Linked DNA regions of Homo sapiens: region 2 is linked to region 1. Evidence: fine-mapped expression QTL. A gene starts in region 1. The other region holds a variant in brackets. All regions are shown on one strand. Distances are between the middles of the regions. Region 1 holds the start of FGD2 (FYVE, RhoGEF and PH domain containing 2). Region 2 overlaps FGD2 (FYVE, RhoGEF and PH domain containing 2).

Evidence for each region. PIP is the estimated chance that this variant, and not a neighbour inherited with it, causes the effect.
Region 2: its variant is fine-mapped to the expression of FGD2 in whole blood (TOPMed, PIP above 0.99).

The regions. Positions count from the first base shown.
Region 1 is chr6:36,998,622-37,010,260 of GRCh38, forward strand. FGD2 (FYVE, RhoGEF and PH domain containing 2) reads left to right here and starts at 7,034. Exons shown (of 16, transcript NM_173558.4): 1 at 7,034-7,264; 2 at 10,213-10,444. The coding sequence starts at 7,197. RefSeq lists enhancers at 1-249, 7,050-7,179, 9,000-9,169 and a silencer at 6,632-6,794.
Region 2 is chr6:37,018,296-37,034,345 of GRCh38, forward strand. It overlaps FGD2 (FYVE, RhoGEF and PH domain containing 2), which reads left to right. Exons shown (of 16, transcript NM_173558.4): 10 at 2,246-2,325; 11 at 2,414-2,444; 12 at 3,217-3,309; 13 at 3,944-4,075; 14 at 7,497-7,643; 15 at 9,134-9,280; 16 at 9,653-10,774. The coding sequence ends at 9,868. Among named protein-coding and RNA genes, the nearest start is that of FGD2, 21 kb to the left of the region's middle. RefSeq lists enhancers at 6,215-7,414, 7,126-8,063, 11,348-11,427. The variant C/G (reference allele first, on the strand shown) is at 9,464.

The DNA of each region.
Region 1 (11,639 bases):
TTGCCCAATCCTTGTGAATGCCAACTTTGAAACTAGATAGTTCACACGCTGAAGAAGAAAGAGCTGTTTATGTTCTTCACTGACGTCCTCTGGCCACCCACGTCAGGCCTGACACCCATCTGCCCCCCACGTCAGGCCTGACACCCCTTTGCTATCTGGGCTGTGCTCTCAGAGCGGATCCTCCTGGGCAGTGAGCCGCAAGGAGCCTGTATTGAGAGAGGTGGGTTTTGCCTCCCGGTATTCCTCACAGGGCTGAACCAACTCGGAATAATTCCACTCCTCAGGTTGACAGTAACATTTAGGAACACCCAGGCCACAGAGGGTCAGGGGCATATAGCAGGCAAAATATAGGGAGGTTCCTGGAAAAGGTGAAAGCGGGAAGGCCGGCGGGCCTTCCACAGAAGGGGCCAGCACCCTTCCAGAAGAAAGCCTCGGCAAAGGGTGGAATTTCCGGCAGAGGGACAGAGTGGAACAATTCTGGCTGCTTGGAGGAGGGGACAGATGAGACGAGTCTCCAAGGGAGCCCAGCTTTGTTCAGCTTCCTCCCTCCAAGCCAGGGATCGGAGGCCCTTGGCGCCCATCCCTCCCATCGGCAGTGTGGCCTCTGCCCACCATGTGACTACCCAGACAGCGCCCTCACTAGGGCCTTCCAAAAGCAGGGGGTGGGGGTGGGCAGGAGGAGGGGGTGAGGCGGAGACCGGGAGGGGTGGCAAGGGTCACGGCAGCCTCTGGCACAGGTTTCAGCTGGCTGCCTGCATCCTCTCTAGAGCCGCATCATCCCAGCTCACAGGCCTGTCTGTCACGGGCCATTAAGCCCTTGGCAGGTGCTGTGTGCTTGACTGAGGCTGGAGGTGGGATGGCTGGCAAGGGGGAGCCTGGGAACATGCCAGCCTGTCCCCTCCAGTCCTTGTCACCCTGAAGATAAATGCTCCTTTGGGGAGTCCTCACTGTCCCCGGAAAGGCTACACCTGGTGAACCCCTGCAGATTTGCTACACACACACCGTTCATACACACAATGCACACATACATACATGCACGTGCACACACGCCAACCTACACACACACCAGATACACACATGTCACATACACACCCCACAAATACACACATATACACTCATAGCATCCTGATCCTAAGTTGTGACACTTCCTCCCTGGCAGCCTCTAAATGCCCCTTCTGCTTTCCCAAAGTTGCCCCAAGAGGTCCTCTGGGCGCCTCCAGTCTACACACAAAGCCGCTCTGCATGCACCCCAGGGTAGAGATCCCTCGCCAGCCGAGTCCCCACCTGGCCCTGCAGTTCTGCTTGGGCATCCCTCCCTCACCCTCCCTCCCACCTTCCCCCATCTGAGCTGTAGGGAACTGAGCTCTTCCATCTTCCCTTGGGCTTGAAAGCAGAGAAGAGGAGAAAAAAAACAAGAGGTTTATTCATGCCAAAGACCCCAAGAGCCCTGAAATGGAGACATTGCCCCTGCTCAGAGGGAGATCTGTAGACTGGATCAGGGGTTACTCTGCTGAAAACGCTATACTCACTCCCCTAACCTTCTAAGCACCTCAGTTTGGCAGACAAAGCCTAGCAGGCCAGGCTTCCAGGACCCCTTCAGCTGCGGGTTCCACCATTTCCCAGGCCCTGGACACCCACGTGTGCGAGGCCCTGTGTTCTTCCCAGTCTAGCCATGGTAGCCATGGTCTCTCAAGCCCATATCCCTTTGCACATGCTGTTCCTTCTGCTTTGAATGCCCCTTCCTGTCTTGTCCACACAGAGTTAACTCATCCTTCATCCTTCATCTTTTTTTTTTTTTTTGAGACTCTGTCACCCAGGCTGGAGTGCAGTGGTGCAATCTCGGCTCACTGCAACCTCCGCCTCACAGGTTCAAGCAATTCTCCTGCCTCAGCGTCCTGAGTATGTGGGACTACAGGCACCTGCCACCACACCTTGCTTTTTTTTTTTTTTAATTTAATGGAGACGGGGTTTTACCATATTGGCCAGGCTGGTCTCAAACTCCTAACCTTGTGATCCGCCCGCCTCAGCCTCCCAAAGTGCTGGGATTACAGGTTTGAGCCACCGCACCCAGCCCATCCTTCATCTTTCATACTTCAAGTCACCTCTGCCACAAAGCCTTCTGATGACCCTTCTTTGGATGTTCATAACTCCCTTGTTCAAAGCTTTCATCACATCCTATTTTAGTGGTTAACAGGCCCATCTTCCTTATTAGAGTTTGAGCTAAAGGGCTGGGGACTGTGTTTTATCTACAACCTCTACTATGGTATTGACACATAGTAGGTGCTCAAGAAACACTTATCTACTGAATGCGTGACTTAATGAATAGGGCGGAAAAGACAAAATTAAACAGAGAGGAACACCAGGTCTCTGAGGAGGAAAATGAATTTCCAGCAGTAGGTATAAAGGAAGGCTTCCTGGAGGAAGTGAACCGGCTGTAGACAGACTGAAGACACTCTAGGCCAGGGATCCCGTAGCCTATTAGGAACTGGGCCGTACTGCAGGAGGTGAGTGGCGGGTGAGCATTACCACCTGAGTTCTGCCTCATGTCCCATCAGCAGTGGCATTAGATTCTCATAAGAGTGCGAATCCTATTGTGAACTGTGCATGTGAGGGATCTAGTTTGCTCACTCTTTATGAGAATCTAATTCCTGATGATCTGAGTGGAACAGTTTCATCCCAAAATCATCTCCCCACCCCCCGCAACCCCAGAAACCAGTCCCTCGTGCCAAAAAGGTTGGGGACCACTGCTCTAGGCAAAGGGAACTGATTGGTCAAGGCAGAGCGGAGCTATAGCAAAGGCTTCTCTCAAAAGTAAGAATGCTGGTAGCCAACAGTCACCGAGTACCTACTCAGTACCAGGCCTTACTCTAACCTCTTCTATATATTATTATCCCATTTAATCTTCATAACAACCACAGGAGGTTGGCAGTATAATTATCCCCATGTGGCAGAAGAGGAAAGTGAAGTTCTGTTACTGGTCCAAGGTGCTACAGAGAAGCAGAAGGACCGGGAGTGACACAATACAGAAGATGGAAGAGCTCAGTTCCCTGCAGCTCAGATGGGGGAAGGTGGGAGGGAGAGAGTGTGAGGGAGGGATGCCCAAGCCAGAACTGCAGGGATCCAATACAGAATACAGAATTTGACCTTATACAGTGTGGGAGCTTCTTAAAGAGTTAATGCTTCTGAGTCTAAAGTAAGCAGGGCAGGCAGTGGGGAGGAGAAGCCGGCAGGGAGGTAGGGGGAGCAAAGAGGAACTGAACTAGTCAGGAAGAGCTGGGACTCTGGAGGACGGACAGGTGGCCACCTCCAAGCCATCAACTTTGATGACACAGGTTATCTTTGTCCTGGAGCTAAGCATGCACCTGGCCCAGGAGCTGGACAAGCTGAAAAGGAAGATCAGTGGAGAAGCAACAGACCCACATCAACATGTATGATCTGCAACAGGGCTGGAGCTCTGCACTGACCCAGGAACAAAACAGGGCTGCTATATCCCCTCCTGCATCCATGGCTAACAGTAGTCCAGACCATGCAGGGAAGGGGATTCTGGGGCTGTGGCTCAGCGTGGCTCAGCTTAGCTCAGCCACAGTACCCGGCAGGTTTGGATCCCAACACAGATTAGGTGTGTGCAGGCAAGAAGTAGCTGAGAGTGTCAACCAGGAGGATCTTGATGGCTGCCCCAGTGAGTTTGAGATGACTTCAGTGCAATAATGGTGCTGGCTTTAGAGAGTTGTGTGTTGAGTTGGAAGCAAAGGTAGGCATCTACCTGGTGATATCCTGAAGGTGTTGGACATATCCACTGGGTAGAAGGGCAGGAAGAGGTACCAGTGGGACCTCCAGGATAAATTCTGAATTGGGTGGGAGGTGTGTGTGAATCAGGAGACCAGAAGGCCGAGGCTGAGTCTCAGGTGATGCCTGCAGGTACAGGCAGAAAGCCTGGCAGACTGTGAGGGGCCCAAGTCAGAGTGGTAGGGGACAGGGGAGGCAGAGCCTTGGATGATGAGGGAAGGTTGTTTTGGGGGTGTAGACATCTTGGCCTCTTTTTCCTGGAGGGAAGCAGCTCTGATGGTGCCTGTGCCATCTTCAGGGTTAGGGTATTGGAGGCCTCTTGAAGGCCCACCTACCCACCCTCCAGCCCCCATGGGAGGGGCAGGTCCCATTGTTCAGGCTTGGATGCTCAAAGCACTGGCAGCTGAGGGGTAAGACAATCCTCTGAGGCTTGGGGTGTGATGTCTGTCCATTCCACATGCCTTCTGAGGCCCCACTGTATGCGGGAAGGGCGCTGGGGTTGGGGACCCACCAGGAAGTGCACGTACTCAGGTGTGCCCTGCGTGGAGGGAGCAAGCCAGCCAGTGAGCAGAGAGACTGGTGGGAGGCAGAGGAGGAAATCCAGGAGAGGAACACCAGGGAGGGAGGCGCCCCCAGGCCAGGGAGGGCATCGGGAAGAAGTGGCATTTAAAGGTGATTCTGATCGAGCCTCTAGACCTAACCACCATCGACAGGAAATCCAGGGTATGGCGCTGCAATGGGCTAAGTCCTGGCTGTGGGACCTACAGGACAAACAACCCAGGGTCCCTCCACTATGCTGTGTGGGAAAACGGAAAGGACCAGGGGAACGTGTGGATGAAAAGTGAATTCATCCACGTGACAGCTCAGGGAATGTGTGGACCTTATTTGGATTCTGATTTTTTTTTTTAATTTAACATTTATAAGGAATTGGCACTTGGAATGTTTTCTGGATATTTAATTATATTGAGGAATTATTGCTAAATATCTCTTGGGGTATGATAACGGTAATATTATTTCATATGTATATACACATGGATATAACATGTAAAACATGTATGTCTATATAAAACAATATTACTATTATACATGTGTATATATGCATATACATTTATGTGTGTGTATATTTAGTTATTTAAAGGGTTCTTGGCTGGGCGCGGTGGCTCATGCCTGTAATCCCACTACTTTGGGAGGCCGAGGCAGGTGGATCATCTGAGGTTGGGAGTTCGAGACCAGCCTGGCCAACATGGTGAAACTCCGTCTCTACTAAAAATACAAAAATTAGCTGGGTGTGGTGGCACACACCTGTAGTCCCAGCTACTCAGGAGGCTGAGGCAGGAGAATCGCTTGAACCCAGTGGGGTGAAGATTGCAGTGATCCGAGATTGCAGCACTGCACTCCAGCCTGGGTGACAGAGTAAGACTCAGTCTCAAAAAAAAAAAAAAAGAGAGAGAGAGTTCTCATCTTCTAGATACACACTAAAATGTTTATGGGTAATGTCATCTGACATCTGGGATTTTCTTCAAAATGACATGAGAAGGCAGAGTCGATGTGGCTGCAGCAGGGACAGGGGACTGGCTGTGAGCTGAGGTTTGTTATGGTCTGGATTAGGGGTTCATGGGATGCATTATATGATTCTGTCTAGTTTTGCATATGTTCTAAATTCTCCATAATAAAAAGTAAAAAACAAAAATGGAGGTTTGTGAGACTTAGGGTTTGGGGCAGGGGGCCCGGCATCTGGTGGGAGAAACCACTCAGACGAGGCTTGGGGTGAGGGCGGCTGTTGGGCATGTGAGGCCCCAGGGGTTCACAGTTACTGGAGCGTGAAGCTGTTCCAGGCACTTCACGTACCAAGAGCACCGAGGCTCAGGCCCTGCACTCCAGGACACAGACCAGGTTCAGTGGAGAGCCCTGGTGGGACCAGAGCCCAGTGGGAGGGCCCTGAACGGCCTGTGGGGCTTGAAGGAGGGGAACAGAGGCAGCGTCCATTTGTTCTGTAAGGGCCGGGAGACCAGGTGGTAAAGGAGGCCTCAGGCAAAGACAACCCAGTGTCCTGGGATCAGGGAGGCCTGGGGATGGAGCAGCAAGAACATGGTCATCCAGGCTCCCAACGAACCTTTGCTGGAACTGTAGGACACCCACTTTTGCTTTGGAAATCCAACTTCTCTTGTATTCTTCCTGGGTGACCTTGGGCAAGTTACTTAACCTCTCTGATTCTGTTTCTTCCTATGTAAAGTGGGGATAGGAATAGTACCTACCTCATGAGGTTGTTATAGGATTAATAAGAAAATACTCATAAGCATGAAAAAGAGTGCATGTTAGCTATTATTATCCTCTGAGTTTCAGGGAGGAAACTGCCCTCCCTTGGGGCAATGAGGTGATGACAGCAACAACTAAAATGAGAGAACCCCAGTGGGGAGGTGGGAACATCACAGTACTCCCTGCCACCCTTACCAGGTTTGTGATTATTTTAAATAAAACATGCTGTTTCCTGGCCAGGCACAGTGGCTCACATCTGTAATCCCAGAATTTTGGGAGGCCGAGGCAGGAGGATCACCTGAGGCCAGGAGTTCAAGACCAGCCTGAGCAACATGGTGAAACCCCATCTCTACTAAAAATACAAATAATTAGCAGGGCGTGGTGGCAGGCCCTGTAATCCCGGCTACTCAGGAGGCTGAGGCAGGAGAATCGCTTGAACCGGGAGGCAGAGGGTGCAGTGAGCCGAGATCCCACCACCGCACTCTGTCTCTAAAGAATAAAAAAGACATTATTTCCTTACAGCTGTGAGCAGGGGCAGATGCAGAAAAGAAGGTGCTGGGAAAGAGGCCAAGTAAAAGCCACTGGACCTTCTGAAGGAGAAAGTGTGGTTGGCTGGAACCACTAGGCCAAGAAACCAGCCAAGGGTCTGGCTCCGGGTGGCCTTTTTTTTTTTTTTTTTTTTTAAGAGACGGTGTCTCACTATGTTGCCCAGGTTGGTCTTGAACTCCTGGGCTCAAGCAATCCTCCTGCTTCGGCCTCCCAAAGCACTGGAATTAGAGGTGCAAACCACTGCACCAGCCCAGACTGGGCTCCAGAAGCTACCTCTGGGCCCTGTTGCCACCTCTTAGGTGGCTTCTGGAATGGGGGTCTACAGGTGTGAAAGGTCAGCCCCCCTGAGGGAGAGGTGGGGCCCGAGCAGGCTCCTCCCACTGCGGGAGTGCTGGCCTTTCCCCTGCAGGGCTGTGGCTCTGGGACCACTTCCTCTTTCTTCACTCTGAAGCCAAGAGCCGACCTTCTGAGCCCTCAAGAAAGATCAGAACAGATTCATGGGTGATTTAGCCTATCTGTCCCAGGCCAGCGTGGCTGAGTGTGCTGGCTGGAGGCCTCTCTCTCTGCTTCGAGGGTAGCTGAGATCCACCCCGGAAACCGGCAGGATGAAGGGGGCAAGTGAGGAGAAGCTGGCATCTGTGTCCAACCTGGTCACTGTGTTTGAGAATAGCAGGTATGGGCAGCTGGGGTGGGAGGGTCACCATGGTGGGCTGGCAGCCACCCTCCAGCCTTTCTGGCAGCTCTCTCCCTGGGCCCTGCCCCGGACCCTCCTCCTGCAGGGGCAGCCCCGCGTTCCTCGGTCACGGATTCCTTGGAGCATGGGAGAGTGTCGGTGGGACACCAGGAGCCAGGCAGGGGTGAGAGTGCCAGTGTGTGTTGGGAGAGTCCAGACAGGTGTGGTTACGAGCAAGCATGGGCAGACCAAAGCCTGTGTGTGGGCACAGGACCCCACCCAGTGCCTGCCAGCACCTCTCAGAAAAGGTAGCTGATACTCACCAAGAATTTACGCCCTATGATTAGGATAACCATATAATTTATCATTCAGCACACAATTGAAACTGAAAGTAAATGCCAAATAAAATGTGGTGGTTGTGGGGGAGGCATTACAGGTAAAGCTGGGACCGTATGAGGCAAACCAGGATGTACGGGCAGCATCCTGATGGGGTACTCCCTACTCTAAGTTCATGTCCTTACTTATTTAATTTAGTCATCGAACAGCCTAATAGGGGTAGATTCTGTTTCTGTTCCCGTCTTATAGATGAGGAAATGGAGACACAGAGAGGTGAGGATGCCAAGTGCTTTAAGTATCTGGGGCAATGCTGGGGCGTCTGTCTGGAGGGAAAAGGCTGGGCCAGATGCGTGGAGTCATTGGTAGCCCTGGGAGCATGTGTGTTTGTGTGTGTGCGCGTGTGTGTATGTGTGTGTTGTGTGTTATGTGTGGCATCAATCCATTCTGCAGGCATTTCTTAAGCTCAGGACTGTGTTAGGGGCTGTCCCAGGTAGGGTTTTCTGGAAATAGACTCAGACAGAGGTTTGCCTCAGGTGATTTATCAGGGAGAGCTTTTGGGAACAACAGCTGTGGGTGTGAGGGAAGCAGGGCCGGGCAGGGGGAGATGCTGAACTGCAGTGCACCTGCCACAGAGGCCTCAGCCTGTCCCAGGGAGCTCTGGAGCTGGGATGCCTCTCGGTTGTTCCAGCTGAGGAAGAGGGCTGGGTATTTGTATCTCCATGTGGACTGGACAAGAGACTCTGGGTGAGGCAGCTCTCTCTTCCAGAGAGTGATTCCCAGAGAGGGACTCAGCCAATAAATTACCCGGCAGCCCCCAGTACTACCAGTAGCTGGTGGGGATGGTGTGGGGAGGCCTCATTCCTGAAGGAGGGACATGGGTGGCACAGCACAGCATCCTACAGGAACTGTAGAGGATGAAGAAGGGTTTCAGTATTTGGATGCTGAGCTCATCGAATAACTATGATGCAAGGTCATAGACAGTAGATGTCCTAGGAATGGCCCGGATGCTGTATTGAGGGCACTCATGGCAGGCAATGTTTCCTGTAGGCTTCAGGGTGGAGATGGCATAGATGTAGACCTAGAAGTCTTCAACTTCCTGAGCTGGGTGATTCTCCCCTGCCTCTCCCGGGATCTTTGCCAAGCTCGTCCTGTTCAGCACCAAAGACAGCTCTTGGGTGCCGCCTTCCTGGCCCACCACCCCCTTGGGTGTGGGTGGATGGTACCACCTCACTCAACATGCTTGACGTGGACTAGGCACACCTGGGTGGAGCCCCTCAGCATGCTGTGCTCTGCCCAGGCAATAACCCTGGCAGGAGTGGGCAGCCCTTAGACGGGAGTTAGGTCCCAGCAGGCATCAAGAGGGTGAGAGCCACTCCTTACTGAGTGAGGGGACCCATACCAACTGCCTTGGCCTGGGCTTCCTTATGAGGTCTCCAGCACCTCAGCTGATCTGAAACTGAGGGGCAAAGAGGAAACAGAAGCTGGCCAGGGGCCCTAGAACAGAAATGCAGAACCTGAAACCAAATGTAGAACAGAAAGCCTGAGAACCAGCTACGCCCATGAGCTGCAGACCCATGGGCTGAGAAACCAGGGACTGGGGTGCCAGGGAGGGGTGGGAGAGCCTGGGAGTAGCCACACAGCACTAGGTCCCAATGCTTTCGCTGCCACAAACCCAATTGTGTCACTTGGGGCAAGTCACTTTGACTCCGCGGACCTGTTTCTCCTTTACTCAAATGGGGAGGGGCAGGTTAGAGTGAAGGCTCAGGAAGCAGTCGCCTGATTTGAATCCCACCTCTGCCACTTCCGAGCCGCATGTTACTCATCCTGTCCAGACCTCAGTTTCCTTGAGTGCAAAATATGGGTAATGAAAACCTTTCTCACGGAGTTTTGGAGATTTCGTATTTGTTTGGCCTTCCATTTCCTGGCCTGTCTTTCTCATAAGGATGCCTGCCCTGTTCTGTCATCACAAGCCCTTCCACACCAAGGGCAACGTTGGGTGTATTCATCAAGGGTGGGCCCTGTTGTCTAAGGAATTTGACTGGCTTGCAGAACCCAGTACACAGGGTAATAAAGGTGACCTACGAAGGCCCGTCCCTGGGAGAACAGAGCATCTGCTGCTGGGCTGGCTCTCCCTGCTTCTGGACGTGTGGAGGATGTCGATCCCATTGAGAAGCCCCAGCTTTTGCAGGCCTGCTCTCACTTTATATTGTTCTGTGGCTCCTACCTTCCCTTGATGTATAGGTTACTGATGTGGAAACTGAAAACAGAGGTGAGGTCCAAAGGTGAGGATAATCCAGGGGGTACCACTCAAAAACCCCTATATACAGAAAGGATTCCTGGACACTGTGGCTTCATTTTAAACAAGGAAGTATGCAGTTCCCCAGAAAATAAAATATAGTCCACCCTGACTCATTTTGAACACTGAGTTCCCTCCAAGAATGTGTTGGGAGAGAAGTGAAAGTCTTACTCAGCATGTTCCCAAAGAAAGCCAGGCACCCAGGGGCCCCTGCACTGGGGATTTGCACCAGGCAACCCAAATCCACACCAGGGACTTGCTGCTGTTTTCCCTGTTCTCCAGGGAGGAAGCCCTCAGGTCTGTCTCTTCTCCTCAGGACCCCAGAAGCAGCACCCAGAGGCCAGAGGCTAGAGGACGTGCATCACCGCCCTGAGTGCAGGCCTCCCGAGTCCCCAGGACCACGGGAGAAGACGAATGTCGGGGAGGCCGTGGGGTCTGAGCCCAGGACAGTCAGCAGGAGGTACCTGAACTCCCTGAAGAACAAGCTGTCCAGCGAAGCCTGGAGGAAATCTTGCCAGCCTGTGACCCTCTCAGGATCGGGGACGCAGGTGCCTGAGGGCTGAGGTAGAGGTGTGGGGTGCTGGGGTGGGGAGCTCTCCCTGACCTCCCCTCCACACATGCTTTCCTAGCCAGAGCCAGCAGTTCCCCAGGTGGGGGTATGGTGTGATCAGAGGTCAGCTGGGAGCTAGATTTCCCCATGCTTAATGGCCTTTGATTCACTAACTGCCTGCTACGCACCGTGCTGGATTACTTCGCGAGTCCCTCGTGTAGGAGTTTTTTGGACAAGGAAGTTGAAACACAGTTTTAAGGAACTTATTCAAGGCCACACAGCTTGGAACAGTCTCCATCTTGTGAACCTAATACTCTTCTCAGGTGGGGCCTCAGTTTACCCACTGGAGGAGACAACAATCTCAACCTAGAAATAGAGGTCTGAGTGTGAACTGTCCTGCCCTTAGACTAAAGCCCAGTCTGATCTCTTCTGTGGCTTGCAGTTTTCTCATCTGCAGAGTTCAAGGGTTGGCATGCAGATACTGTGCACCCAAATTCCCTGGAGTCACATCCCAGCACGTCTGCTTACTAACTGTGTGTCCTTGGGCAAGTCACTTGAGTCTCTTTGTGCCAGTTTCCTCATTTGTAAAATGGGGATAGTGGTTATAGTAATGCGTCCTGGTTTTCAATCGCTGCTGAACAAACCTATCAAAAATGTAGCGGCTGGCCGGGTGCAGTAACTCACGCCTGTAATCCCAGCACTTTGGGAGGCCGAGGTGGGCAGATCACCTGAGGTCAGGAGTTCAAGACCAGCCTGGCCAACATAGGGAAACACTGTCTCAACTAAAAATACAAAAATTAGTTGGGCATGGTGGTGGGCGCCTGTAATCCCAGCTACTCAGTAGGCTGAGACAGGAGAATCACTTGAATCCAGGAGGAGGAGGTTGCAGTGAGCCGAGATTGCGCCACTCCACTCTAGCCTGGGTGACAGAGCGAGACTCTGTCTCAAAAAAAAAAAAAAAAAATGTAGGGGCTGAATGTAACTGTTTATTGTTTCTCACATTTTGTGAGTTGACTGGGATGCTGCCGGGAGGTTTTTCTACTGGCCTCACTCGGGGGTCTGTGTGATTCTGCTTGGGCTGCCGTAACAAAATGCCCCAGACTTCAACACCAGACATTTATTTTCTCACAGTGCTGGAGGCTGGAAGGCCAAGTTCAAGGTGCCAGCAGGTTTGGTTTCTGGGGAGGTCTCTG
Region 2 (16,050 bases), 22 kb after region 1:
TCTGCTAGTCTCGGCTAACATGTCTGATACTCCAGCAGCCGCACAGCACCCTCTCCTGGACGGCATGGGCTTGGCAAGTGCAGAGCTGTCCACTCACCCTACTTCTGTGCAGGAACCATTTTCTGAGTCTGTGATTTGGAGGCAAATCTTGCCTTTGACCATCATGATGGTTCCTATTGGCCTATGACTCCCTGGCCTCCTCCTTCCTAGGTGTCAGGGAGGCCTAGTTCACAGCAGCTGATTCTCTCCAAGGTCTGACTTGGTCTTAGTATTTTGCCATCCCCCACAGGGCCAGCCTGGGAAGAAGGAAGGGGTGTGGACACACATACCTAGGGGCTCCACGTACAGTTGTGCAGGTTGTACACTGCACAAGGATACCTCATCTAAGAGGATGTCTTCTGCAGCCAACTGCAGATTAGCAGACTATGATATATCATAGATGGTATATTTATAGTGAGAATTGTCCGGCAGATGGCAGTCAAATGTCTTGTTCCAACAATATCTAGGTATTATGCCAGTTTGCCAACAGATGTCAGTAAAGTGTTTTGAGGAAGGCTGTCCTTTTCTAATTACTACAAACGTACTGTATGGACTAGCAGGGGACTGAATTGACCTAGCCCTGGGGAAAGTGGTTGAGGCTCAGCTCAGCACAGTTCTGGAAACTCCTCTTGAAACCTGCTGGGGAGCTGGAAGCCTCTGTATGAACATCCCAGGGGCAGCCTGGACCCTCAGGTCAGGAGCCCCCAGTTCCCTTTTTTCTGTCAAAAGCATGATATTTCTTCCTGCTTCTGGACTGCAAACCTTGGATTTCTCCCTTCTTTTCCCTTTCCCCTCTCCCTGACCCAGTTAGAAACCTCTTCTGTCTCTCCAGTGCACCTGGGCAGGCCAGGACCATTTATGATGTTGCTTCCTAACTGGCCTTTGGGCTACAGGTTTGTCCCATTTGGCCCACATCCAGCCTGTCATCCCTTGCACACAAAGAGGTATTTGGCTCTTTCCCAAATACCTCTTTCCACATGACCGCCTCCTCATTGCCAAGGGCATCGAATCCAAATCACATCAGCCCCTTCTAAGGCAAAGACTGGGGAGTGAGGCTGCAGACTAGGCCTAACCTGAGGAAAGATGTGCTTGTACTCAGTGCTGTCTGGGTTATGGTGAGCTGCCCTGGAAGTGTGCAAAGGCCTGGCCACCACATGGGAGGCAGCAGAGGAGCTCAAGTGTTTGAGGAATTTAATGGCAACAAAGTTGCCCCACACAGAAGCTCTTGTGCTCTCAGCCTGTGTCTTAGGTTCTCTTTGCAAATCTCTCTCCACACCGTCTGAAGGAAGTGTGCTTACAGGACTCTGGGGGTAGGATGGAAATAGATGTTCTTCCATCTCACCCTTGGGGGCTGAAAACCTGGGGTGGAATCCTTCTTTTGCCCCTTAGGTGCTGTGTGACCTCAGGCAGCTCTCTTGCCCTCTCTGAGCATCCATTTCCTCATCTCCTAAATGAGGATGATAGTATCTGCTTCCCAAGATTGCTGTGAAGATTATTTTCTTCTTCTTTTCTTTTCTTTTCTTTTTTTTTTTTTTTGAGACAGAGTCTCCCTCTGTCACCCAGGCTGGAGTGCAATGGCACAATCTCAGCTCACTGCAACCTCCACCTCCTAGGTTCAAGAGATTATTGTGCCTCAGCCTCCCGAGTAGTTGGGATGACAGGCATGCGCCACCATGTCCAGCTAATTTTTGTACTTTTAGAAGAGATGGGTTTCACCATATTGCCCAGGCTGTTCTCAAACTCCTGGCCTCTAGTGATCTACCCGCCTTGACCTCCCAAAATGCTGGGATTACAGGCGTGAGCCACTGCACCCAGCCAAGGTTATTTTCTTTAATGTTTTATTATGAAAATTTTAAAGCCAAGAAAACGGTATAATGAACCTCATATACTCATCCAGTTTTGAAATCTAATTTCCTTTTTTGTTGAATCCATTGTCAAAAATTGTCATCTCCACGTCACACTGGGTCAACTTAGCTGCTGCTAAAATTCCAGGAGCCATAGGTTCCATTTGCTTGGAGCGAGGCCCAGTTGCAGGGGCATTTGCTTGGCTCAACAGGATTAGAGAGGTGGCGAACAAGCTCTGCATCCCTGTCTCTCGAATTTGAATTGTCCCTTGGGCACAATCCACCTCCCTCCCCTCCACAGTGCTGTGCCTGGGACCCGGGCTATGATGAGTCTGAACTGGTTGCCTCCCTCCTCTTGGCAGGTGCGGGAGCTGATGGATGCTGAGTTTCCCCACTCCTTCCTGGTGTCCGGGAAGCAGCGCACCCTGGAGCTGCAAGCCCGGTAAAGGAGCTGGGGTGGCGGCCCAGGGCCAGGCGGGAAAACTGGGAGGGGCTGATCTCCTCAACACCTGTGTTCACTTTCCGAGCAGGTCCCAGGAGGAAATGATTTCCTGGATGCAGGTATGGGAACGCTCCGAGGCTTCTGGGAGTCTTTTTCCTTTCTTTCTTTTTTCTTTTTTTCTTTCTTGGTACTAGACTACCTTGATGAAGCTCCTGGGATTCTCCCTAGCCTATTTGGGCTGAAGGGGAGGGAGTGGTGTATGTATGCATGTGTGTGTGTGTGTGTGTGTGTGCATGTGTGTATGCATGTGTGTGCATCTGTGTGTGCATGTCTGTGTCTGTGTGTTTGTGTGTGTGTTTGTGTGTATGTGTGCATGCATGTGTGTGCGTGTGTACATGTATGTGTGTATGTGTATATGTGTGTTTGTGTGCATGCATGTGTGCATGTGTTTGTGTGTATGTGTGTGTTTGTATGCATGTGTATGTACGTGCTTGTGTGTATGTGTCTTTGTGTGTCTGTGTTTGTGTGTGCGTGCGTGTGTGTGTGTGCATGCTCCCACACCTGCGTGTGCTCAGCTGCTCCCTGCTCTTCCTAAGGAGCTGCTCTGTGGTAGTTTGGAGACCGATCTGGGTTCCTATCTTGCTGCTTCTCATTGCCTAGCTGGGCAGTCCAGGGCCAGTCACTTACCCTCTCTGAGCCTCAGTTTTTACATCTGTAACCTGGGGCTGGTAGTTTCTCCTCCGATAAGGCAGCCCGCGTGTGTGTAGAATCCAGCGCCTGGTACCCAGTGGGCTTTCAGCCCTGTCTGTTGCATGCACGGAAGGATGGACAGAGGAGCAATCCCTCCCTTCCACACCTCAAGCCCCGACCCTCCCCCTCCCTGCACCCCAGGCCTTCCAAGCAGCCATTGACCAAATCGAGAAGCGGAATGAAACCTTCAAGGCTGCGGCCCAGGGGCCTGAGGGAGACATCCAGGAGCAGGAGGTAAATGAAGGCTTTTTCATCCCTTGCTGGAGCCACCAACCCAAATAGAGCTTGTTCCCTCTCTGTTCTGCCTATACCAGCTCAGAGGGAGAGGGAGTGTCATCTGCCAGGAGAGACTGAAGGGACCAGGGGAAGCCTTCCCAGCGCATCCCCCGACTCAGGGCCTGAGCATTCCCCTTTAGCAAAACTTCCTTTGAGAGCCTGTCTGCACAGCTGTCTTGGGGAAGTGTTTCACGTCTCTGCAGCTCCAGCTGCAGGGGGCAGTAGGGTTTTGGGTTTGAAAGTATCTGAGAAATACAAAGTCTCAGGGAAGATGGAAGGTGAGTGAGGTGGGGGCTGGGGAGGATATCTGTGGTTTGAGTTCAGATTTGAGCTGAACTCTGGCTTGCTGAGTGACTGCTGAGTCATTTGACCTCTCTGGGCCTCAGTTTCCTCACTTATACAATAGGAATAATGGTAACTAACGTATCATAAGGTCTCGATCAGGTCAGTCAGCTTGCTGTAGAAGCCCCAGGGAAGCCCAACACAAAGAATCCCTGCTACAGCAGGTGGGCACAGGGCCCCAGGCCCTGGGAGGATGGGCGGAAGAAGGTCACCAAGGGCCCATTCCTGCCCAACTCCCCTTAACCCACAGCTGCAGTCTGAGGAGCTGGGCCTCCGGGCACCGCAGTGGGTCCGGGACAAGATGGTGACCATGTGCATGCGCTGCCAGGAGCCCTTCAACGCTCTGACGCGCCGTCGCCACCACTGCCGGGCCTGCGGCTATGTGAGTACTCCTGCCAGCACTCCTGCCTCCACCTGCGTCACCCAGGCCTCCACCTGCATCACCCAGGCCTCCACCTTTCCTACCTAGGCCTCCGCTTGATCCACCTAGGCCTCCACCTGCCCCACCTCGGCCTCCATCTGTGTCACCTCCACCTGTCCCTCCGAGGCCTCCACCTGTGTCACCCAGGCCTCTATCTTTCCTACCTAGGCTTCCACTTGATCCACCTAGGCTTCCACTTGATCCACCTAGGCCTCCACCTGCCCCACCTTGGCCTCTACCTGTCCCACCTCGGCCTCCACCTGCCCCACCTTGGCTTCCACCAGTGTCACCCAGGCCTCTACCTGTCCCACTTAGGCCTCTACCTGCCCTACCTGGGCCTCTACCCACCCAGCTCAGGTGCTGCTGTCCCCATCTTGGCCAAATCTGCTGGCTTCAACCAATGCAGCCCAGTGGTGTTGGGCACTAGCTCTGAGCCAGGTGTGTGTATTACTACCTCATCTGGCCCTCACAGCACACCTCAGGAGGCTGCTGTTTCCCATTTTTTAGATGGGAAAATGAGACCCATTGAGGTTAAATTACTTGCTGAAGGTACCCCTGAAGCTGATCCTATGAATTTACCTGCATTCTTATCATCATTTTCCACGACCCTGAGACCCAGAGCTAGGAAATGGTCCCCAGTTCTAGTGGAGGGGCATCTAGCCCCGCACCCCCTCAGGCCTTGCCCCACCACCTCACCAGGCCCATGCCCACTATGCACTCACCCACCCCGTCATCCTCTCTTTACCCGCTTCGGCTAACTGTCCTCTCTTCTCTGCAAGCCCTCAGCACCCTGGCACCTGATGGATTCTGTTGTTAACTCTGCCTACTGGTTCAGGCCTCAGTCTCCTTAACTCCGCCATGGGGATCGTGAAACCTACCTCCAGTGTGGCAGTGAGGATTCCACCAAAAAACATTCTTTCCCTTCCCTCTCCTCTTTTTCTTTCCCCCTCCTCCATAACTCAGGCAGGGCATCCAGTGCGGGTGAGCTACCAGCTTCTTGAGGAGGGTACTGTGTCCACTACAGTTTCTCCTCTTATCAATCCAGGCCCAGTTACCAGAGGTAGATCTCGCTTTGCTTTTTAAGCACTCCTGTACTTGAGCTGTTCTCTGTTGACATCACAACCCCCTCTGTTTACTCTGCAAACAGAGAAGCCCTTTGCAACCTCAGTCTTTGATGACCTCCAGAGGACAGGAGGAGTCTAGCTGGACAGGTTGGGGCCAGTCAGGGAGGTGTCCCCAAAATGTGTTCAACTGCAATCAGGACAGAGTCAGTTTCTAGGACCTGGGAACACACCTGCCTTCAGATGTCAGTGATGAGTTACATCCCGAAGCCAGGTAGAAAGGATGTGGGGATTGGCTACTGTTCCTGGTGATTCACTTCTGTAAATAAGAGTTGAATTGATTCACACTTGTGAGTGAAAGTAGTTCTTTAAAAATTACTTAAAATAGTGAAATACAAAGAGGCACAAAGAATAACAACACCTGTGTAGCTGCCTTCCAGCTTAAGATAGAAAATATTCTGACAACTAAATTAAATGTATGATCCTTGCTTGGATTCTTTCTGGGGTAAAATAAAGCTATCAAGGTTGCTCTTGGGACCATTGGGAGAAATTTGATGATGCAACATATCTAGATAATAATATTGTATTGGCTGGGTGCAGTGCCTCACACCTGTAATCCCAGCACTTTGGGAGGCCGAGGTGAGCGGATCACCTGAGGCCAGGAGTTCGAGAACAGCCTGGCCAACATGGTGAAACCCTGTCTCTACTAAAAATACAAAATTAGCCGGGTGTGGTGGTGTACACCTGTAATCCCAGCTACTCGGGAGGCTGAGGAGGGAGAATCGCTTGAACCCAGGAGGTGGAGGTTGCAGTGAGCCCAGATCACCCCACTGTACTCCAGCCCAGGCAACAAAAGCAAAACTCCATCTCAAAAAAATAAAAATAATAATATTGTATCAATAAATTTCCTGAGCGTGACTGTGACACCGTGGATAGGTAGAAGGATGCCCTTGTTCTTAGGAGACCACCAGCTACATATTTAAGGGTGAGGTGTCATGATGACTGTAATTTATCCTCAAATGGTTCAGAAAAAAATAAAATACATACATATAGAGAGAGACAGAGAGCAAATGTGGCACAAATGTTAATAATTAGTGAATCTAGTGGGTGGTATCATTGTATTATTTGTTCAATTTGTCTGTCGGTAGGAAATTTTTCAAAATTAAACGTTGGTAGAGGAAAAAATATTTACTAATTATATTTAAACATTGAAATCGCTCAATAAAAAAAAAATGCTCCTGAGGTAGCTGAAGCCCCCGTGTGGGGCTGTGCCCTGACCGTGGGTTTCTCTTGCCTGTGCAGATCTTCGTGCCTGCTGAGCCAGTGAGTCATCCTTTCGGTGGTTCGGGTGCCAGTTTCTGTCTCCCCTGCCTGCCAGACGGGAATCCTTGTGAGGGTGGGGCAGGGCCAGGCCTTCTTCTCCAGGTCCCTGCCAGGCCACACTCTGTGCTGGGCACACAGAGGAGCTCCCTGAAGGCTGGTGCCGCCTGATGAACTACACTCCCTCTGCCCCTTTCTCCTGCCCTCCATCTCCACGCCCACATCTGGGCTCCCCATAAAGCCAAGTCTTCCTCGCAGTCACACCTTGCGGCACCCAGTGTTCCTCTCTGAGTCTTCCCAGGCCCCTTTTACCCAGCCTCCCGGCATGATCCATGTCAGCCTTTGGGGGGTGTCTTCGTGGTGAGCTGAGAGTGGGCCCCGCTCCACAGAGTACCCATGTAAAAACAACCAGCCTATCATTTTTAGGTGAAAACACACTTGACTCCATGATGGCGCAGAATACAAAGTCTGCCTGAATCTTAAAGCTAAACTGTGGGACTTGAAAGACACACCCTGTGTGTGGAGGGCCTGTCTGCCAGGTAACAGTGTGGCTCTCAGGGTCAGGAGAGGACAAAAGCTGGGCCCTGCTTGCCTGGTGGGGTCTTTGGGAGAGTCAGGTGAGATGGCGGAGAGGACAGCATTTGGAAAAGTGAATCAGATGCCAGTGGCCCGTCTGGGGCAAGCCCCTTGGGTTCACAGCAGCCCTCACTCGGAGGGAACCTGGAGGGGAGAGAAGTTACGGCCCTCGCGGTGGGGGCCGGGTCTTGAACCCTCAGCCTAAGAGCCCCGAGCCCGAGCTCCCCCATGTGTCGCAGCCTCCAGGCAGTTGGGCCTCACCAGCATGGGGGAGCATCCCCGCTCTGCCTCTATTCCTCCCTCGAAGCTTTCTTTTCCTCCCCCAGTCCCTGGTTGCTCTCATGCCCCCACCTGCCCACCAAGGCAGGAGCCCAGCCCTCCGGTGCCTGGTCTCAGCCCCATGCCCCCTTATGTGTCCTCCTCAGGTGGTGTGTGCCAGGTGCTCCGACTACCGGGCCGAACTGAAATACGACGACAACAGGCCCAACCGAGTCTGCCTCCACTGCTACGCATTCCTCACTGGAAATGTGCTGCCTGAGGCCAAGGAGGACAAGAGGCGGGGCATCCTGGAGGTGAGGGCCACTGTCCCCGCGCTCACCATCCGTCCTCTGTTCAGGGAATGTGTGCCCGGCAACCATGCTGGGCTGACACTGTCCAGTGCTGAGGAACAAGCCAGCCATGGTCACACCCTCCCCCCTCTCCCTCTTCCTCTCTCTGCCCACAGACCCCAGGCCTCTCGCCACAGCCCAGGCAGTGTGGAGCCTGTCACCAAATGGAGGCACCCTTTGGCTGCAGGCTGTCGTCCACATTCTTCTGCACTTCCTCTATGTCCCCATCCGATAGTACGGCCCCTCTGGACAGCTCATGTTCACGTCCCCATGTCCTGCCCCGACAGTCCCAGGGTGCCAAGAGCTGGTGTCACCGCTTCCATTTTACAGATGGGAACACTGACGCTCCAGGTCAGACAGATTGGAGACTCCATTCTAACTGGAAGGGACTCCAGGGGCCAGTCGGTCTTATCCCATGGAGACCCAGGGCTGGAGGAGTGACTTGCCCAAGATCACACAGCAAGTTAGGAGCCAGCTCTCTGATCTCAGTCACAGATGTTCTTTCTGTTGCCCTGGGGGCCTCACTGAGCCACACTTGCCCCCACAGGTGCTCCCCTGTGGGGGTACAACTGTGCTCAGCTAGGCAGCACAAATACAATGTCAACCAGCTCAGCATCAATACCACTGTCCACTGCCCCTCCCTCACGAAGGCCAGGTTGACATCCCACCGTCCCTGGGAGGTGGGAGAAGGTCCCAGCCTGTGCCAGCTGAGATTCACTCCCAGGTTCAAGTTGGCCTCTTTTGGCCAGGCGGGAAGGCTCATGCCTGTAATCCCAGCACTTTGGGAGGCCAAGGTGGATGGATCACGTGCGGTCAGGAGTTCGAGACCAGCCTGGCCCACATGGTGAAGTCCCGTCTCTACTAAAAATACAAAAAAAAAAAAATCAGCCGGGCATGGTGGTGCATGCCTGTAATCCCAGCTACTCGGGATGCTGAGGCAGGAGAATCTCTTGAACCCGGGAGGTGGAGGTTGCAATGTGTTGAGATTGCACCATTGCACTCCAGCCTGAGCAACAAGAGAGAAACTATCTGAAAAAAAAAAAAAAGTTGGCCTTTTTCCACGGGCATCCACCCCGTTTCCAATCCTCCCCATCCTTCCAGGCCCAGGACCCCCTGACCACTAGGCAACACAGCCTGCCCCTGGAGATGCTCAGCCCCTTCTCAGGGCCCAATTCTGTTTCCTGGAGCAGCTCCAGGCACCCTCCCGGCACCTGCCCCTTGTGGGCACACACGCGACAGGTTCAGGCAGGCTGGGGTTTGACTGCAGCTCTGCCACTGGCCAGCTAGCTGTGTGACCACAGGCACTTGATGGGACCTCTCTGAGCCTCAAGGACCAAGGACCCCTCCATTCAGTACTGCTGTAAGGATTGGAGATAGTGATTGTCAAGCCCCCAGACCAACATCTGGCACTTGCGGCTGCTCTGCTCCCTGACAGTCCCTCCTTCTGGTTTTAGAAAGGGTCCTCAGCCACGCCTGACCAGAGCCTGATGTGCAGCTTCCTGCAGCTCATCGGGGACAAGTGGGGCAAGAGCGGCCCCCGGGGCTGGTGTGTGATCCCTCGGGATGACCCCCTCGTGCTCTATGTCTATGCTGCCCCTCAGGTAAGGCCACCACCTGCCCGCCCCCCGTCAGGCCCTGGCCTTCCCACAGCGTGTGTGTGAAGGGGGTCAGGGGTGAGTATTGCTAGCTCCATATGTCAGATAGGGAAACTGAGGCCCAATGAGGATATGGTATCCTGGAGTCTCAAGGTTGGTAGGTTTCAGAATTGTGCCCTGACTCTAGGT[C/G]ACCACTGCTTTGCCCTCAGAGGCAGCCAGTTCTTCTGTCCTCTTCCTCGATGGCCTTCACCAGCCCACCCCCAACCCATGGGGGTTTAGGGTGTGAGCTGTGCGTGCGTGGCTGTTGCCTTCACGATGGCTATCTGGGGCAGTAGGACTGAGAGGGGACAGTGGCCCACTGCTCTCTCCTCCCCCCAGGACATGAGGGCTCACACCTCCATCCCCCTGCTGGGCTACCAGGTGACTGTTGGGCCCCAGGGGGACCCTCGGGTCTTCCAGCTACAGCAGTCAGGCCAGCTCTACACCTTCAAGGCCGAGACGGAGGAGCTGAAGGGCCGCTGGGTGAAGGCCATGGAGCGGGCGGCCAGTGGCTGGAGCCCCAGCTGGCCCAACGATGGGGACCTGTCCGACTGAGCCACTGCCAGCCGCTCTCCTGCCCACCTCTCCCCACCCTGAACCCAGCTCCTGCCACAGACTGACCCTGTGGCCTCAGTGACCCACTGCCCCAAGTGGTGCTTTCAGAGAATTGATTCAGCCATCTGCGCCCAGGCCACGTGTCCCGATCTGGGATTAGAAAATATGGGTCCATTCCTTTCTAGAAAGGGGACAACCAAGTGTCTCAGTTTGCCTTGCGGGGAGGGGGCTCCTGGGCCATGGGACTTCCAGTGCTAAAACTGGGAAAGCCCCAGGTAACCCCGGACTGGTGGTCACCATAGTATGGTTTTTCATTTGTATCTCCTGGGGAGCTTTTAAAGAGTACTGGTGAAAAACACATAGTAAATTAATTTTAAAAATGTAAAAAACAATGCCTGTACTGAAGTACCACCACCGATTTAAATGGGCTGAGTTGGGGGAGGCATGGGGTCTTTTTTTTTTTTTTTTTGAGACAGAGTCTTACTCTGTTTCCCAGGCTGGAGTGCACAAACATGGCTCACTACAGCCTCGCTCTCCCGGGCTCCAGTGATCCTCCCGCCTCAGCCTCCCAAGTAGCTGGGATTATAGGTGTGTGCCACTGTGCCAAGCTAATTTTTTTATTTTTTGTAGAGATGGGATTTCACCATGTTACTCAGGCTGGTCTCAAACTCCCAGCCTCAAGCGATGCTCCCACCTCCACCTCCCAAAGTGCTGGGATTACAGGCGTGAGCCACCATACCTGGCGCATGCATATTTTTTAAGAGTACCCACTGGAGTCTAATATATAGCCTGGGTTACCTGGGATGAAGAATAAAGAGAGCAAACTACCACAACCAATGGTTGAGCCCCTGTCAAGTGCCAGTCATGATAGTAGTAATAATAATAATAAACATCTATTGGACCAGGCTCTGTGCAAGGTGTTTTATGTGGATTATGTCATTTTACCATCCAGAGTTATCCCCATTTCCAGATGAAGACACCGACTCAGAGAGGTTTAGTAATTGGCTCAATTGGTCATGTAGCTCGTAGATGCCAGAGCCAGGTTTTAACCCGGTGAACTAAGGTCAAAGCTCTTTCTATCATGGAGCAGAACAATAAGACAAGCAGAGAGGGGAGGAGAGTGAGGAGAAGCAAAAGAGAGGGAAAGAGAGTGAAGAAGCTGGGAAGACAAGAGAGAAAGGTGAATGGTGGGAGGAAGGGTGACGGGAGGAGCATCCCTGTCCCCTCATCCCCACCTCGCTGGTGGGTGAGGATGCTTTTTCATAAGAGACCACCAGGGGGTGGCAGTGGTCAGCAGGCCACATGCAGTGGCCCCAGCAGTGGCCAGAACACCCTCAGCTGCTCTCAGCAGGTCCAGCCATTGCTGGGCTCTGCCCTGAAAGGAGGAAGCATGGATGAGTCACAGGTTTTTGTCCCATCACAGGCCCAGCAGCTTTGCCTGCCTCCAACCTGAGGCCACTTCCCTCCTGTAGGGTGTTTGTTTGTTTATTTGAGACAGGGTTTTGCTCTGTCATCCAGGCTGGAGTGCAGTGGTGTGATCAGAGCCCACTGGAACCTTGACCTTCTGGGTTTAAGCTATCCTCCTTCCTCAGCCTCCTGAGTATCTAGAAGCACAGGTGCACGCCACCACATCCAGCTAATTTTTAAAATTTTTGTAGAGATGGGGTCTCACTATATTGCCCAGACTGACCTCAAACTCCTGAGCTCAAGCAATCCTCCTGCCTTGGCCTCCTAAAGTGTTGGCATTATAGGCATGAGCCACCATGCCCGGACAGCATCAGCATTTTATTTATTTTTTATTTTTATTTTTATTTTTGAGATGGAGTCTGTCACTCTGTCACCCAGGCTGGAGTGCAGTGACGCCATCTTGGCTCACTGCAACCTCTGCCTCCCAGGTTCAAGTGATTCTCCTACCTCAACCTTCCAAGTAGCTGGGATTACAGGCGTGCGCCACCATGCCCGGCTAATTTTTGTATTTTTAGTAGAGACGGGGTTTCACCATATTGGCCAGGCTGGTCTCAAACTCCTGAACTCCGGTGATCCACCCATCTCAGCCTCCCAAAGTACTGGGATTACAGGCATGAGCCACTGCACCTGGCCTGCATCAGCATTTTAAAACTCGCCAATGATGCTGAAGGCAGCTGGCTCGGTGACAGCAGAGTCGATTCTGCAGCACTGATACCTAAGCTTTTCCAGGGGTTTAATCTGAGTGGGAGTATGGAGAGTGGCTTCACTGTGGAGCAAAATGAGGTAGCCGTCAGGAGAGGGAAGCGAGGGCACACAACCTTTGTGCTGTCATTGTTAGGTTTACTGAGGTGTAATTTACAGACTGTAAAATCCACCCTTATTAGTATATTTTCTAAGTTTTGGCAGAAGAGTACAGTCATACAGCTACCACCACAATCCCCCTATAAGTGTCCCCATGCCACCCTTTGTAGTCAACCCACACCCCTACTCCTTGCCTCTGGTAACCATTGATCTGTTTCTGACTGATAATTTTGCCTTTTCCAGATGTCATTTAAATGGAACCATAGCTTTTTAAGCCTGGCTTCCTTTACTCAGCATTATATATTTGAGATTCATCCATTTTGTTCTCCATGTCAGTAGTTCATTCCTTTTTCATTGCTGAGTAGTATTCCATTGCATGGGCATACCACAGTTGTTCATCTGTTTACCAGGTTAAGTATACTTGGGTTATTTCCAGTTTGGGGCAATTATGAATAATACTCCTATGAACTATAAACGTTCATGTTCAGTGTTTGTGTGAGCACGTTTTCTTTTCTCTTAGGTAAATACCTAAAATTGGGTCACTGAGTAAGTGTCTAACTTTATCAGAAACTACCAAGCTGTTTTCCATATTGGTTGTACCATTCTGCATTCCTACCAGCAATGTATGACATTTCCCCTGCTCATGCATTTGGTATAGTCAGGTTTGAAGTTTGTTTTTTTAAAATTAATAATTTTAGACATTCTGGTGAATGTATAGGGCTCATGACCTTTTAAATGTTTATGATACAAAGAAATGCATACAGGCTCACATCTGTAATCCCAGCACTTTGGGAGGTCAAGGCAGGAGGATCGCTTGAGCCCAGGAGTTTGAGTCTGTAATGAGCTATGATTGTACCACTGCACTCCAGCATGGGTGACAGACTGAGACCCTGTCTCAAAATGAAAAAAAAGTAGGTATTTTGCAAATGATTATTACCTACTATGTGTACCTAATACGTGCCAGGTAGTATACTACTTATACTACTTTTTCTTTTCTTTTTTTTTTTTTTTTGAGATGGAGTTTTGCTCTTGTTGTCCAGACTGAAGTGCAGTGGCACGATCTCCGCTCACTGCAACCTCTGCCTCCCAGGTTCAAGCGATTCTCCTGCCTCAGCCTCCCAAGTAGCTGACATTACAGGTATGCACCACCACGCCCAGCTAATTTTGTATTTTTAGTAGAGACGGGGTTTCACCATGTTGGCCAGGCTGGTCTCAAACTCCTGACCTCAGGTGACCCACCTGCCTTGGCCTCCCAAAGTGCTGGGATTACAGGTGTGAGCCACCACGCCTGGCAAGGTAATATGCTACTACTTTCCAAATCTCAGGGGCAGCTGATATCATGCAAAGGGCACCCCCTTGATAGCCTGAAAAGCTCAAATTCCAGTTCTGTTGAAGGCTTGACATAGGGTCTTGGGGATATCACCCAACCTCTTGAGCCTCCATGTATTCATTGTAACTTGACAAGCAGTGCCTCTTTGTAGGATTTGGTGTGAAAACCAAGTGAGATAATTCAGGGAAAGCTCCTAGCCCACAGACGGAGCTCGCTGGCTGGGAGTTGTTACTAGCTATGCTCTTCATGGACGTTTCTGCTTTCCTGGGACCATTTGTTCTGGCCGCAAGCCTGGTTGCTTCTACCTTCAGGATATACTGCGAACAGAGCCCGTCCTCACACCTCATACCCCTCACATGCTGTCACTTGGCCCGGCCACTGTGATATCTCTGGGGGTGATTGCTAGAGCTTCCCACCTGCCCTTCCTGCTCCCACACTTGTCCTCTGGCATCTTCACACAGATTCTTTCAAATCTGAAAGCTGAGCTAGTTTTCAGCTCCCAGCCCTCCAGTAGCATGGGGTTAGAAGCCCATCTAATGCCTCCCTCCGTGTGCTCCACCAGGCCCTTTGGGATGACCCCTGGCTGCTTCTCAGAGTTCCCCCTTCCCTTGCCCCATCTCACCTCCCTCCCTCAGCACACTTCCACCTCAGGACTCTTGCACCTGCTGCTCGTTCAGCCTGGATGCTGTTCCTCCAGAAATCCGCCCGATGCACTCCCTCACTTCTCTCCAGTCTCTGCCTCATTGGCCCTCGGACAGGCTTCCTTGTCCACCTGCCTCACGTAGTGCTCCTGGCAACTCTGCCCCTGACTCTGCTTCACATAATACAAATCGTTTTATCTATTTTGTTTCTTTCTTTCTTTTTTTTTTTCTTTAGACGGAGTCTCGCTCTGTCACCCAGGCTGGAGTGCAGTGGTGCGAGTGGCAAGCTCCGCCTCCCGGGTCCATGCCATTCTCCTGCCTCAGCCTCCTGAGTAGCTGAGACTACAGGCGCCCGCCACTGCGCTGGGCTAATTTTTTTGTATTTTTAGTAGAGACAGGGTTTCACCGTGGTCTCGATCTCCTGACCTCGTAATCCACACGCCTCGGCCTCCCGAAGTGCTGGGATTACAGGCGTGAGCCACCGCACCCGGCTTCTATTTTATGTTTCTTAGATTAGTGTCCTGTCTCCATTTTTGGAGGGCAGAGAGTTGGTCTTTTGTTCACTGCTGTTTCCCAGTGCCTGGCCCACAGCCAGTCCTCAATAAAAATCTGGGGACTGGCTGGGAGTGGTGGCTCACAACTGTAATCCCAGCACTTTGGGAGGCTGAGGCGGGCAGATCACATGAGATCAGGAGTTTGAGACCATCCTGGGCAACATGGTGAAACCCTGTCACTACCAGAAAATACAAAAATTAGCTGGACATGGTGGCACACGCCTGTAGTACCAGCTACTTGGGAGGCTGAGGCAGGAGAATCGCTTGAACCTGGGAGGCGGAGGTTGCAGTGAGCCGAGATGGCACCACTGCACTCCAGCCTCAGTGACAGAGTGAGACTCTGTCTCAAACAAAACAAAACAAAAGATCTGGGGACTGACAGAATGAATTGTGTGACTCAGACACGACAAGGCCATCACCTCGTACTTACTAATCATCGCCACCACTATGTCCATGAGGTCATGGGACTTTCACATCTTTCCACTTCCCCAGCATGACGCTCTGTTATTCGTCTCTGTATCCCAGGGCTTAGCATGTAGCAAGTGCTTGAAAAATACCCTCTGGCCTGGATTCACGCCAGCTCTGCCCACCCTCCAACACAGTACATTTTCATTTTCTTCCTTGAGGTGACTGGAGGTCAAAGAGGTAAAATGATGTGTCCAAGGCACGTAGCATTCCTGTGCACTCTCTCAGGGACCGGGACGCAGGTCTCCAACCTCTGACAGTGACCCCACACCTTTGTCCTCACCTTACTGCCTGTCCCGCCCTCATGGCTTGATACCAGGACCTGCTTCTTTTTGAAGATGGCCACAATGAGAGTATTTCCACCATGGAAATTGGCAAACATGAAAATTGGCATGTCAGCCCCTCTGACCTGTCATCCCCCAACAAAGAGCTAGTTGTTCCATTTTTACCAGCACCTCACTGGACAGGGAGCCTGGCATTCTGGGGAGACTGAGGGAAGCCATCTTAGCTCACATAGCCCTGTCTCGATCTTACAACCAGACCACAAGCCCCTCGAGGGTGGCCAAGATGCCTTATCCATCTCTTTTCCCCACTCCTGTCCTCACTCTCTGTCCTGGGCTTGCTGCCAGCTAGATTTGGGCCTAGGGAAACACTGAGCTTCTTCAGGTTGAAGGCCAAGGTAGGGGTGAGGGCATCTTCCTACTGGTACTGCTGGCCTGCCCTGGCCTCTGCCTGGCCACCGTATTCCTGTTCTTACTGCCTGGGGGAGCTGAGCACTGACATGCTAGAGCCATTTCCACCTCTGAACTGTTCTTCTCACCCTCTTCTCTCTATGATTCTCAGATTTCTCATCTTTGCCATTATCATGTCTCACTTTCTTTTTTTCTAGGAATAAAAACAAAAGTTAATTTTTGATGAGCACTT